Linked DNA regions of Homo sapiens: region 1 is linked to region 2. A link means that fine-mapping ties the variant in region 2 to the expression of a gene that starts in the linked region. Tissue or cell type: thyroid. Region 2 holds a variant in brackets; the other region holds the start of a gene. All regions are shown on one strand. Distances are from middle to middle.

Region 1 (2,681 bases), 27 kb before region 2:
AGCAGCTGTTCCAGGTAGAGTATGGTGTGCCTGACTTGCTCTGTGGGAGACTCGGTCCCCAGGGAATTAGTTGTCACCAACTGTTTTCAGTGTGTCTTCTCGGCTTTGCCCTCTTCCTCTTCTAGAGTTGAATGATTCCCCAACCGATGCTCACAGGAGGCTCTATTCCCCACCCCTCTTCCACCCACCCAAAGCACTAACACACACTGGCAGCATTCACAAACACACCCATCACCAACTGCACCCCAGGTGTTGTGGTCTACTCTCATCACCTGGGCTCACAGTGACACCAATTACCATGGGATTATCTGTCCTCTTCCATGTTTGAGCTCTTAGTGTGTGGACTGTCCCACATTCACTTGAGACAGTGTAACCAGTCCTTTACCTATCTGGTATCACCACCAGTTTCCTTGGGACATAAGCCCAAGGTACAGTCTGATCCAAACTCTCCCCTTCCTTCATCCAAGCCCTTCAAGTTATTCCTCCCTGGTCTAAGCCCAGCATTATTCCTTTCTTAGAATTCTTAGAATGTCAGAGCTGGTGGGGAGGTGGTAGAGACCTCAGAACCCTGACAATCCTCTGGTTCTTGGCTTGCGGCCCAGATTCCTAGGAGTCCAAAACAGTAGGGAGGGAGCCTAAAGTTTCTGACATTTTGTTTTTTTTAATAACTTTTTTTTTCTAACTACAAAGTAATGCATGCTTAATGTAGAAAACTTGGGAAAGGCAGAAGTATAAGAGAATTTTTAAAATCACCCTGTTTGTCCCATTCATCCCTTTAGCTTCAGTGATCCAGTGCCTGGCACAGATACAGATTAGGTACTTAATACACATTTGTTAAACACATTATCTTCAATTCCATTACCCGGAGATAAAAACCACAGTTAACTTTTTATTTTTATTTTTTATTTATTTATTTTTTTTTTGGAGAGATGGAGTCTCGAACTCCTGGGCTCAGGTGATCCTCCTGCCTCTGCCTCCCAAAGTGCTGGAATTACAGGTGTGAGCTCCCGTGCCTGGCAACAGAGTTAACTTTTGATTGTTTTGCCTTCCAACATTTTATATATGTTTTATACAAAGGGGATTATATTATACACCTTTGTAGCCTGCTTTTTTTCCTCTCAGCAATATACTTACTATGTGCGTTTTCCCATATCGATAGCTTCTTTACAACACCATTTTTAATACTTTCATATCATTCCTTCAAATGGCTATACCTTTTCCTAGCCAATTCTGGGAACAACTGACCCCCTGGCATTTGGCATGGGCCCAGGACAGAATGTGTACTGTAATGACCGCCCCCCGTCCCAATTCTCCAGATAGGACATTAAGTTCCTGCCAGCATCTGCAGCCCGTCTCCTGACTCAAAGTTCAGGCTGCTGCTCCAACATAGTGCCACTCAGAGGAGGGCTCCACACCTGCCCCCAACCTTGCCCTGCCCTGCCCTGCCTTGGCCGGCGCCGCGCACCTAAAGCGCCGCTCTGGCGGTGGGGCTGGACAGAAGAGACCCTGCGCGGTCCGGCCGCTCGCCGCGCATGCTCCTTCCTGCGCGCTGCCCTCCCCGGCCCCGCCTCCGCGGCTCCCGCCCGCGAGCGGTTGGGATTTGAATCTGCCGCGGACTGCAGCCGGAAGTGTCGATCCCTCAGCCAGGGCATGGAGCTCTCCTGCCCCGGTTCGCGGTGCCCGGTGCAAGAGCAGCGTGCCCGCTGGGAGCGGAAACGCGCCTGCACCGCCCGGGAGCTGCTAGAGACCGAGCGGCGCTACCAAGAACAGCTGGGGCTGGTGGCCACGGTGGGGGACCTGGCACACGCTCCCATTATAGGACAGGGACCCCAGGGTGTGGGAGGGTCTCTGCGAGGTCGGTAACCCGGAGCATGTAGGGAGCCTGGGCAGACTTCTGCGGTTTCTGGGGGCGCTTGGCGTTAGCCTTCTCTTCCTCTAGGCTAAGAACCAATGTTCTCTCCTTCCGCAGTACTTTTTGGGGATCCTGAAAGCCAAGGGGACCCTGCGACCACCTGAGCGCCAGGCCCTGTTTGGCTCCTGGGAGCTCATCTACGGCGCCAGCCAGTGAGTGGAAGGGGCACAGGGAGAGGAAAGGAGGGAGAGTCCTGGCCTGTGGCCGTGCACAGAGCTTGGAGTCAGACTTAGGTTCTATTTGGAGTCCGCCAGTTAGCTCACCTGTGGCCTTGGCCCAGGGCCTTAGCATGCCCTTGTTCTCCATCTGTACAATGGGGTAATAGCACTACTATTAGTGCTATTCTCATGAAAACTAAATGAGGTGGTGCTTGAGTGGTTCTAGAGCTGCCCTTTTGCTGTCCTTGCCCACACAGGGAGCTGCTTCCCTACCTGGAAGGAGGATGCTGGGGCCAAGGGCTGGAGGGCTTCTGCCGCCACTTGGAGCTCTATAACCAATTTGCTGCCAACTCAGAGAGGTCCCAGACCACCCTGCAGGTAACCTGGAGATGACCTCAAATCTTGCCCCTTACCTTTCCCCTTCATCTGGAGACCCAAACTTCATACATTTCCTGCATTTATAGAGCCCTCTGGGTGCTCAGCTCTGTGGTAAGTTCCTTGTAGAGAAACGAGAGTTTCTCTCAGGAGCACAGCTTACTGAAGGCTGGGAATGTGGATACAGATGAATGCAATATAAGGAGTGGCTTCTCTCCCTGCTTCCAATCCTTTCT
Region 2 (2,681 bases):
GGTTGAAACAGAAAAATGTCACAGAATGAAAACCATTTTAGTAAATAGCAATAATTCAGTCATTTTTGGTGGAAATTCTTTGATGTGATCTAAACCAAAATGAGATCAGCTTTGCTTCAAAAAGATTTTGCCAAATAAGAGAAACTGCTGAATATTTAACGTTTAAAATATCAATTTCTATGTATTTTTTCCTTTTTCATGGTGTTCAGGAATTAATTTTGTTAGCAGTCAAGATTGCTTAATCCTCAGAGTTACATTTCCATTTTGCAAAGTAACAACTGGTTGGTTTTTACTCTTAGTTTCCCTTTCCCCAGCCAGCATGTAAACAACCTGCCATATTGTTGCAAAAAGGCAAATAGGGTTAAAATTGGAGACAAGACTTCCATCATTTTTGCCAAGCAGAGAGGGAAGAACTCAGTAATCACATAATTCTGCTCAAACTAAGTGTATCTGAGAACTATTCAAATGTTCACAGGAGGACAGATGACCTCTTTTTTCTCCATTTCTCTTTGGATGTTACACTTTGTCATTTGTCATCAAAATTGGCCTTTTCCTTTATCTCTTTGTGGTAAAGCTTGATGGCATCTGAATTTACACTGTCTCCTTGACAGTTGTGCTGCTTCTGCTTCTTTCTGGCAGTTTCTACTTTTCCTTTCATTTTATTATCCTGCTTTTTATTTCAATTTTGTTTTTATAGTCTCTGTGTACTGTCTTGACCTTTAGATGGTCTTACCTTCAACATGGCAAGGATGTCACACTACCACGTACAAATAACAATGTGCTTTCTTAGCTCATTTCCCTAGCATGACTTTTTTTGAGATGTCAAAAGCAAGTTTTTGAGAAACCAATTGCATTTTTATTTTGCCCTAAGGGTGCTTAACCCAATGTCTCTTCTTTTATTATTATTTTATTACCCAAGGGAAAAAAAATTTACTTAGTTTATTTTTTTAAAGCCAGTACTTTGCTCATCAATTAATGTTTGTTGAATTTATTCCTACTGGATGAGTAGTTGTATTCTTTTGAAATAATGTGTCAAATCTTTGTGCCCAAAGATTAAAAAAATAAAAGTAAAATACATCTAAAAAAAAAAAAAAAGAATAAGGCGGCCTTCCGGCCCCTCTGGGTCTAGGGCGGTAAAGCGTCTAAGGGTTGCTGCCAAGCGGGCCAGGAACTGGGCTGGGTTTTCGCCTTTACCTTGGGTAGTTTCCTTTAGCTTGTCAGAATTAACAGCTTTGTGTGCTGCCTTTTTAAGCCCTTCAACTAGGCAGGAAATCATGTAATCTCGCCTAGCTATACCTGGGGAATCTGCCTGATAGTTCCTTTGGGGGTCCTCTCGGGGAACTGCTCTGATGCCTTCCTGGAGGCCTGGCTCATGAAGCC[A/G]GCGGTTGTCAGCGTGAGACTGGGCTAGAGAAAAAACTCTTTCCTGTTCATCTGGGGAGAGGGTGGAAGTCAGGATGACATTTAAGTCACTGCAGGTTAACTTGCAGGACAGAGTTAGATATCGGAATTCCTGTATATATTTAGCGGGGTCTGATGAGAAAGAGCCCAAACACTGGCTGATTTGGGAAAAGTCTGATACAGAAAAAGGCGCATGTACCCAGACTATGCCTTCAGCTCCAGCCACTTCTCTAAGAGGAAATTGTTGGGCAGGTGGGGGAGAGCTAGTCGCAGAACAAAACTGTAAGCCAGACTGGGTGTGAGGAGGGGAGGTGATAGAAGGGTTATAGGGTGGGGGAGCGGAGGCTGAAGAGGAGCTGGAGCCTGATTCAGCCTGGTGGGGAGCGACCTGAGGAGGAGCAGTCTGGGGAGGAGGGGAGAGGTCAGATGGGTCGGTAGAAAAGGAAGATTCAAAAGACCCAGCAACACTTGGGGTTGGGACTGAAGGGACAGGTGGGAGGGAAAGAAGGAGGATTTGGGACAAGTCGCATTGGGAACAGAGACTAGGGAGAGAATGAAGTGTGAAAGACGCCCGGATGTACGGCACCTCCGACCATTTGCCCATTTTTCGACAAAAATTATCTAGGTCTTGTAGGATAGACAAATTGACAGTGCCGTTCTCTGGCCACTTGGAACTATTTTCGAGTTTGTATTGGGGCCAAGTGGTATTGCAGAAGAAAATAAGGCATTTAGGTTTTAGGTCAGGTGTGAGTTGAAGGGGTTTTCAAGAACACAGGCTAAGGGAAAAGATGGGGGAATCGAGGGTGGAAGGTTGCCCATAGTGAAGGAGGTAAGTTTAAAGAGAAAGGTAGAGACACGGAGCAGGGGGTGATGAGCAGCCCTGGGCTGCAATGTGGGTGAGCAGCCAAAGCAGGCGTCCCCACAATTGACTTGCCACCAAGGGAATGTGGGTGAATGACCAAGGCAGGCATCCCCGTGGTGATCAGACACCAATGAAATGTGGGTGAATAATCAGGCAGGCATCCCCGCAGTGATTAGACACCAAGGGAAGGCTGTCTTCCTGAGTCCATGACCAGCGCCGGAGTTTTGGGTCCACAGATAAAATGTGTCTCCTTTGTCTCTACTAGAGAGGAAAAAGAACTGGAATTGGAAGGACAGGGAGATTGAAGGGTAGCAAGAGAGGGAGATTGAAGGGTAGCAAGAGAGGCTGGAGAAGAGAGTGAAAAGACCGCTTACCCAATTTGAAATTGGTGAGATGTTCCTTGGGCTGGTTGGTCTGAGGA

Evidence for each region. PIP is the estimated chance that this variant, and not a neighbour inherited with it, causes the effect.
Region 1: it holds the start of ARHGEF39, and the variant in region 2 is fine-mapped to the expression of ARHGEF39 in thyroid (GTEx, PIP above 0.99). The same link has a PIP of 0.9 or more in esophagus muscle, gastroesophageal junction, hippocampus and spleen.

Annotation. Positions count from the first base shown.
Region 1 is chr9:35,664,139-35,666,819 of GRCh38, reverse strand. ARHGEF39 (Rho guanine nucleotide exchange factor 39) reads left to right here and starts at 1,625. Exons shown (of 9, transcript NM_032818.3): 1 at 1,625-1,788; 2 at 1,970-2,064; 3 at 2,328-2,448. The coding sequence starts at 1,651. RefSeq lists a silencer at 1,457-1,606 and an enhancer at 1,757-1,836.
Region 2 is chr9:35,637,439-35,640,119 of GRCh38, reverse strand. It overlaps a transcript of CD72 not described here. Among named protein-coding and RNA genes, the nearest start is that of SIT1, 12 kb to the left of the region's middle. The variant A/G (reference allele first, on the strand shown) is at 1,381.